Linked DNA regions of Homo sapiens: region 2 is linked to region 1. The links come from fine-mapping of genetic effects on gene expression. A gene starts in region 1. The other region holds a variant in brackets. All regions are shown on one strand. Distances are from middle to middle. Region 1 holds the start of ZNF2 (zinc finger protein 2). Region 2 has its middle 20 kb from the start of FAM95A.

What was found. PIP is the estimated chance that this variant, and not a neighbour inherited with it, causes the effect.
Region 2: its variant is the best candidate, but not a certain one, in a credible set for the expression of ZNF2 in whole blood (TOPMed, PIP 0.52).

The regions. Positions count from the first base shown.
Region 1 is chr2:95,163,652-95,167,919 of GRCh38, forward strand. ZNF2 (zinc finger protein 2) reads left to right here and starts at 2,158. Exons shown (of 5, transcript NM_021088.4): 1 at 2,158-2,209. RefSeq lists enhancers at 1,146-1,782, 1,783-2,417, 1,845-2,274.
Region 2 is chr2:94,779,310-94,783,826 of GRCh38, forward strand. It overlaps the pseudogene ANKRD20A8P. Among named protein-coding and RNA genes, the nearest start is that of FAM95A, 20 kb to the left of the region's middle. The variant C/G (reference allele first, on the strand shown) is at 2,502.

The sequences.
Region 1 (4,268 bases):
GTGAAATGGGCCAGGTGCAGTGGCTCATGCCTATAATCCTAGCACTCTGGGAGGCCGAAGAGGGTGGATTGCTTGAGCCCGAGTTTGAAACCAGCCTGGGCAACATGGTAAAACCCCATGTCTACAAAAAAATACAAAAAGTAGCCAGACATGGTGGTGCATGCCTGTAGTCCCAGCTACTCTTGAGGCTGAGATGGGAGGACTACGTGAGCCCAGGAGGTGGAGGTTGCAGTGAGCTGAGAGCATGCCACTGCATTCTGGCCTGGCTGACACAGCCAGAGCCTGTCTCAAAAAATAAATAAAGTGAGAGCTAGAATTCTGAGAATCGAGCAACAAACCTGACTTTTAGACTGCTAAATCCTAGAGCACATAAACTTCCACTTTGGCAGCTACCTGGAAGCGGTAAAGACAAAGCCTAGGGCCTGCCAGTGGGTGGGGAATATTCTAGAAGGAAACACTTTCAGGACCCCAGTTTCCACCCTCAGTATAAGGCTAAATAATAAAAACCACCACACAGAAGGGAACAAAAAAAAAAAAGTATTTCTCTTATGGATGTTGTGACTTTAATCAAGCTCTAATCTCCTAGGAAGGTCCAAACCCCTTAGTACAACACAAAGGCAGCCACAACCTGGCCTTACCTCAAGATAGTTATTGGCCCCTAAACCTCATCCACAAGGCATTCATTTTGCTACTAATTATTTTCACTTTTATCCTCTAGACTATGCCTTTGCATGTACTATTCACTGTTTAGATCACACTTTTTTTTTCTTAAGTATTTAAGTATACCAGTGAAAGGAATCCTTTCCCACCTTTCCCGGCCATAGTTAATAGCTTCCTCCATTGTACTCTCATAGTATGTTGAATGTGACATAATTATAGAACATACTGCCTCTATTGTGATTTTACATTCTGATTTTTTCCATTGGACCAAGAGTTCATTTGGGGCAGTAACTTACTCATATTTGTAACTGTGCCTTGCTTATGGTGAGCAATTTGGATTTTTTGAATGAAAGTGTAGTCTTATGGAGATGGAGAGTAGAAGGATGGTTAACAGACTGGGAAGGGTTGGCGGGGTGGGGAAGTGGGGATAGTTAATGGGTACAAAAAATAGAATAAGAAATAGTATAACTAGTATTTGATAGCACATCAGAGTAATTACAGCCAATAATATTGTATATTTTAAAGTAACTAAAAGAATATAACTGGATCGTTTGTAACACAAAGGACAAATGCTTGAGGTGATGGATATCCCATTTGTCCTGATGAGATTATTACTTATTGCATGCCTGTGTCAAAATATCTCAGGTGGCCCATAAATGTTCACACCTACTGTGTACCCACAAAAACTTAAAAAAAACCCAAACCACTAATAAATTAACCTGGAAAAACGTAGCTTTGTTCCTGAAGTAAGATTTTATCATATTCTTTGTAATTTTCAGTCTTCCCTGAGATGTAGCTCAGTGGTTCCTAGCTTTAGCTGCACATTAGAGTCACCTGCAGCTCTTTTCAAACTGTCGCTCCACAGCTGGGCCTCAGGCATCAATGTCGAAAGCTCTCCGGGTGATTCCAGCTTGCAGCCAGGGCCGTTCCAGCAACTCCAAGGCTGGCTGGTGTGCGCTGAAGCTGTCGGGAGTCGGACCAGCTGCACAGTTAATACATATGTGTCCTAGGCTCCTCTCTCCTTCCAACGCAAATATGTGTACAAACCCTGCCTGGAACCGCAGCCCTGCTCTCAGAATCAAATTCCTGAAAGTGGGCAAGCGGAAGCGGAAATAAGCCCTCTCCCAACGCCAGCTGACTCGATTTCGTCTCGGTCTTCCCCAGAGCTGGACACGAGGCACCATGATCAGAGAGACACATTCCCTGCGGACGGCGCTCCCATCGGATACTGGAGGGACGCGACACTAGAGGCAGGCAGTACTTCAGGGTGACCATAAGTCTCCCAAACAGCCACAACGGCTCGCTCTCCCAGCTAAGGCGACAGCGCTGCCATTTTGGATCCTGTTCAGCCACGGGAAGCCGGCGTTTGCACACATTTTCGGACGTCATATTAAAGCGCACCGGACGCCGAGACTTCTGGGAGATGAAGTCCTTGCGAAGGCCCCGCATTGATTGGGAGCGCAGTCGCCAGGACCCTGTGCGCAGGCGCGTTGGTTTCCCGACCTGAAGAGGCGCCGTCTTCCCGGGTCCCGAGCACTCTGTGCCGGAGGTGAGGGTTGTGGGTGTGTGTCTTCAAGGAGCGGAGTGAGCGCAGCAGCCGAGAGAGGGGACATGAGAACTTTGGGGAGGTGCTGTGGGAGCAAAACGGGGTGACACGGGCGAGGCCAGCCTGCAGAGCGTGTGTCGCGACGTCTCGGTGCGGACGGAAAGTTGTGCATCCACCCCCGTGTGTGCGTGTGTCCCGTGGGGTCTGGGCACCCATTGTATGTCGGTCCCGGACTTTAAGGTTGGAGGTTTGGAGTCTTCCTCCGCCTCTCCCGTTTCTTCTTCCCATAATGGGTGCTTAATGAACGTGGGTGGAATTGACACCAAATCTAGGATGCTGCCGCTCCGTCTTTGCCAGACAGCGCCTCAGATTGCCTCATTTAGCTCCCTGCCCTGGGCCTCCGCACGAGTGCTGGAGGGCTTCATGGAGGAGGTGGGATTTGACGTGAAAGAAAAACAACAACAACAAAACAAAAACCACGAAAGAAGCAGCTAAGCGTTAGGCAGATTTGAGCTGGAGATAGTTTTTACAGAAATGCAGGAACAGTGGTAGACAAGGTTGAAGAAAAGGTACGCTGGGAGCCAGGGCCCGGGACTCAGAGAATCAGGACAAGACTCAGTAGGCAAGGTGGCTTATATAGGTGTGATCCAGGGACTGACACGAATGAAACTATTTGGAGACAGTTATTCTAGAGGTCACATTCAGGACTAGAGAGGGGAAAGGACCAGTAGCAGAGAGCTACTTAGGAATGTATGGTAGTTTTGGAGTAAGATGTTGTGGACTTGAATTATGGTGGTGGTAGTGAAAGGGAAGGATACAGATGACACTGCAAAAGAAGAGTCAAAAGGGCCTGGTGACTAGATTTGGGAGGAAAGAGAGTGAGGTAAGAGTTTGAATTTGGGACACCTGGGAGAACAATAAAACATCTGATACAAATGTAAAGCCAGGAAGAGGCGTTGATGTGTGGAATTGCCTAAAGGAAGATAGTTTTGAGGTGATGGTGGAACGCCTGATTTAAGGTTTGCAGTCATTTGGAAATGCAGGATGAGTCTGGAAGAATGCAATACAGTTGTATTGTAAAATTACAATACAATTACAGGACATGGACATCTGTAGAGTTTGAAAATGGAGCCCTGAATGTGGATGGACTTTCTGAGGGATGGCAAAAACGAAGAAAGTACAAAGACTGAGCTATGGGCAGCATCCATGTTTCCAGGGCAAAAGTGGGGAAAAAGAGTCACAGAAAGACAGCAATTTTAGTGGTTGGAAGAAAAGCTAGTGCAGTATCATAGCAGTTACAGTAACCACTTGAATAAGCAGAAGCTTGTCCGAACAGTGAAAAGCTACAGAGAAATAGATAATATGGCCGGGCACAGTGGCTCACGCCTGTAAGTCCCAGCACTTTGGGAGTCTGAGGCGGGCGGATCACGAGGTCAGGAGATCGAGACCATCCTGGCTAACACGGTGAAACCCCGTCTCTACTAAAAAAATACAAAAAATTAGCCGGGCGTGGTGGCGGGCGCCTGTAGTCCCGGCTACTCGGGAGGCTGAGGCAGGAGAATGGCATGAACCCGGCAGGCGGAGCTTGCAGTGAGCCAAGATTGCGCCACTGCACTCCAGCCTGGGTGACAGAGCGAGACTCAGTCTCAAAAAAAAAAAAAAAAAAAAAGAAAGAAATAGAGATAATAGGATCAGAAATGCATTGGTAGGCCAGGTGCGGTAGCTCATGCCTGTAATCCCAGCACTTTGGGAAGCCGAGGTGGGCAGATCACTTGACGTCAGGAGTTCAAGACCAGCCTGGCCAACATGGTGAAACCCCGTCTCTACAAAAATACAAAAATTAGCAGGGCATGATGGCGGGTGCCTGTAATCCCAGCTACTTGGGAGGCTGAGGTGGGAGAATCACTTGAGCCCGAGAGGTGGAGGTTGCAGTGAGCCGAGATGATGCCATTGCTCTTCAGCCTGGGCGACAAGAGTGAAATTCCGTCTCAAAAAAAAAAAAAAAAAGTAGTTTTCAAGCATGCCATTTCAGGTGTGTGAGGGGCAAAAGCTGAAAAACAGG
Region 2 (4,517 bases), 380 kb before region 1:
CCACATCCAGGGCACAAGGGTGTGAGGGCTGGGCTCCCAAGGCCTTGGGCAGCTCTGCACCTGTGGCTTTGCAGTGTTCAGCCCCCGCAGCTGCCCTCATGGGCTGTGCTGGTGTTGAGTGCCTGGAGTTTTTAACCCATGGAGGGTATGAAACTTTTGTTGGGTCTATGAATCTGGGATCTGCACGATGGTGGCCTCCAGTGTGGGGGCTCCAACCTCATATTTTCTTTCTGCACTGCCCTAGTAGAGGTTTCCCATGAGACTCTGCCTCTTGGGCAGCCTTCTGTCTGGACACCCAGGCATTTTCATACATCTTCCGAAATCTATATGGAGGCTCCCAAGTCTCTGGACTAGTGCTCCGTGCACCCACTGGCTTAACACTATATAGAAGTCACCAAGGCCTATAGCTTGCACCCTCTGAAGCAGTGACCCAAGCTGTACCTGTACATCTTTCAGCCAAGGTCAGAGCAGGAGCTGGGGCTGCTGGGATGCAGGCAGCAGTGTCCTGAGGCTGCACACAGCAGCAGGGCCATGGGGCTGGCCCAGGAAACCATTCTTCTCTCCTAAGTCCCAGGGCTTGTGACAGCAAGGGCTGCTGCAAACATCTCTGAAATGCCTCCAAGGCTTTTCCCCACATTGTCTTGGCTATTAGCACTGGCCTCCATTTTATGCAAATTTCTGGAGGCTTCATGAATTTTCCCCCTGAAAATCAGCTTTTCTCTTTGACCACTTGGCCAGGCTGCAAATGTTCCAAACTTTTGAGCTCTGCTTGCCATTTAAATAGAAATTCCAACTTGAGGTCATTTCCTCAGTCACACATAAGAGCACAGGCTGTTTGATGCAGACAGGATCCCTCTTGTGCTATGGTGCCTAGAAGTTCATTCCACCAGATATGCACTAAATTATCACCCTCAAGTTCAAAGTTTCACAGATCTTAAGGGCAAGATCGCCCTGCAGCCACGTTCTTTGCTACAGCAAAACAAAAGTAACCTTGGCTCCTGTTCCCAGTAAGTTCCTCATTTTCATCTGAGACCTTGTAAGCCTGACCTTCACTGTCCTTCCTTCTGTCAGCATTTTAATCAAAACTATTTAACAAGTCTCTACAATGGTCCAAACTTTCCCTCATCTTCCTGTCTTTTTTCAAGCTCTCCAAACTCTCCAACCTCTGGCTGTTACCCACTTCTGAAACTGCTTTACACTTTCAGCTATCTTTGTTGCAGTTTGGCACTCCTGCCTTTCACGCGTAAACCCAAAAACAATCCCCCCCAACTCTCCCCACCCCCTTAATACCCTCCACTCTCCCCCAGGGGAAACTTCAAGAAGGCTTCAGATATTTGCGTTAAAAAGAAGCCCAGTGCTGATAGCCAAGACAATGGGGAAAAGTCCTTGAAGATATTTCATAGCTCCACTTTGCAGTACTTATTTTCTGTGTGGTAATAATGAAAAGGGGATTCATTGGCTCATGGGTCTGCAGGCTGTAAAGAAAGCATGGTGGCTTCTGCTTCTGGGAAGACTCAGGAAACCTCCCAATCATACCAGAAGGAAAGCAGCAATGAAATGTTTCATACAGCATGAGTAGGAGAAAGACTGAGAGAGGAAAGAGGCATCACAGCCTGTTATACAACCAGATCTCCTGAGAACTCACTGTCACTAGGTCAGCATCAAGAAGATGGTGCTTAACCATTGGTGAAGGAGCCACCCCACAACACACCTCCACCCCCTATTGTTTCCAGACAGAAGCCTGCTGCAGAGACAGAGCCTCTTGGAAATCCTGTTCTATGGCAGTGCAGAAGGAAAACAAGGGCTTTGAGTTGCTATGCAGGAGGCCACCATCCTCTAGACCCCAGATTCATAGACCTACCAACAGTTCGCAGCCTCAGTATGGAAAAGCTATAGGCACTCAATACCAGCCCAGGCCATAAGGGCAGCCATGGGGGCTAAAGCCTGCAAAGCCACAGGTGCACTGGCCTGGTAGAGGTTTTCCATCAGCCTCTGCCTCTGCAGCATGCTACTCCCCCTTCCTACTACGCACCACCCTCCCACCACCCTACAGCCGGCCTACTGTTCCCCACCCTACCCAACCCTTTTTTCTCCCACCCCCACACCTCCCATCCATGATTAAATAATCTCCCACCAGGCCCCACCTCCAACATTTGGGATTATAATTCCACGTGTTTTTCTAGAGGCACACAGCCAAATCATATTATGCTGACCCTGATCCCCCCAAATCTCATGCACTCCTCACACAGTAAAATACAATCATGCCTTTTCAAAAGTTTCCAAAAGCCTTAACTCATTCTCGCATTAACTCAGATGTGAAAAGTTAAGTCTCATCTGAGACAAGGCTACAGTCTCTTCTGCCTATGAGTCCCTGAAGTTAAAATGGCATTCATTTATTTCGAGGTACAATGATGGTACAGGTATTGGGTAAGTTTTCTCAATCCAAAGGGAAGAAATTTCCAAGAAAAATAACACAAGTGGAACCATAGGCCCAATGCACA[C/G]CCAAAACCCAGCAGGACAGTGTTCATTCAATCTCACAGCTCCAAAATCATGAAGAGAACTCACTCTCAGAAGGGCAGCATTAAGGAGATGGTGTTTAATCATTTGTGAAGGATCCACCCCCACTCCCACCTTTTACCCATAACCCCAACCAAACACAATCCCTCCCAACTCTTCCCACCCCCCCCAATACCCTCCAACTCTCCCCATCCCTCCCATCCAACCTCCACTCTCCACCATGATTAAATCACCTTCCACCAGCCCCCACCTTTAACATTCCCCATTAAAATTCCACATGAGTTTTGGGAGAGACACAGAGCCAAATCATATTACTCTGTCCCGGGTCCCCCAAATCTCATGTCTTTCTCACATTGCAAAATACAATGATGCCTTCCCTACAGTCCCCCAAATCTTAACACACTCCAGCATTTACTGAAATGTCCAAAGCCCAAAGTCTTATCTGAGACAAGTCTACAGTCCCTTCTGCCATGAGTCTCTGAATTATAAAGCAACTTAACTACTTCCAAAGTACAATGATTGTACAAGCAATGGGTAAGCATTCTCAACCAATAGAAAAAAAAATTGCTAGAAAGAAGCACAAAACACAGATGGGACTCATAGGATACATAAATGTCCAAAACCCAGCAGGCCAGTCACTCAATCCTACAGCTCCAGAATCATCCTTTTTGAAACCCTGTCCCAAATCCATGGCACAGGGGTGTGAGGGCTGGGCTCCCAAGGCCTTGGGCAGATCTGCACCTGTGGCTTTGCAGTGTTCAGCCCCTGCAGCTGCCCTGATGGACAGGGCTGGTGTTGAGTGCCTGTAGCTTTTCCATACTGAGGGTGCAAGCTGTTTGTGGGTCTATGAATCTGGGGTTTGGAGAATGATGCCTCCCTGTGTGGGGGCTTCAATCCTATATGTCCCTTCTTTGTTCCCCTAGTAGAGGTTTCCCAAGAGGCCCTGCCTCTTGGAAAAGCTTCTTTCCTGGACATCCAGGCATTTCTGTGCATCTTCTGGAGTCTAGACAGAGGCTCCCAAGCCTCTAGTCTCTTACTCTGTGCACCTGCTGGCTTATCATTATATGGAAACCATCAAGGCTTGGAGCCACCTCTGAAGCAGTAACCCAAGCTGTACCTGTGCATCTTTGAGCCATGGCTGGAGGTGGAGCTGCAGGAATGCAGCCAGCAGTGTCCTGAGGGTGCACAGAGCAATGAGGCCATGAAGCTTCCCCAGGAAACCATTTTTCTCTGCCAGGCCCTAGGGCCTGTGACAGCAAGGGCTGCTGCAGAGGAACCTGAAATGCCTTCAAGGCCTTTTTCCCATTGTCTTGGCTATTTGTACTGGGCTTGTTTTTATACAGATACCCTAAGCCGTCTTGAATTTTCCCCCTGAAAATCAGCTTTTCTTTTTGACGACTTGGCCAGGCTGCAGATTTTGCAAACTTTAGGTCTCCACTTCTCATTGAAATAGAAGTTCCAACTTGAAATCATTTCTTAGGTCACACATAAGAACACAGGCTGTGCAATGCAGGCAGGACACCTCTTGTGCTTTGCTGCCTAGATATTCATTCCACCAGATACATCCTAAATCATCACCCCCAAGTTCATAGTTTCACAGATCTCCAGGGCAGGGTCACCGTGCAGCCACGTTCTTTGCTAAGGCCAATCAAATGTAACCTTGGCTCCTGTTCACAGGAAATTCCTAATTTTCATCTGAGACCTTTTAAGTCTGGACTTCAGTGTTTATCCTTCTGTCAGCCTTCTGATCGCAAGTATTTAACAATCCTCTACAGTGGTCAAATTTTCCTCATCTTGCTGTCTTCCAAGCTTTCCCAATTCTCCTGACCTCTGTCTTTTACCCACTTCTGAACCTGCTTCTACACTGTCAGCTATCTTTATCACAACCTGGCAGTGTGGTAAAAGAAGAAAAGTCCACTTTCAGGGAGAAAATTCATGAAGGCTTCAGTTATTTGCATGAAAAGGAGCTGAGTGCTGGTTGCCAAGAAAAGGGGAAAGGC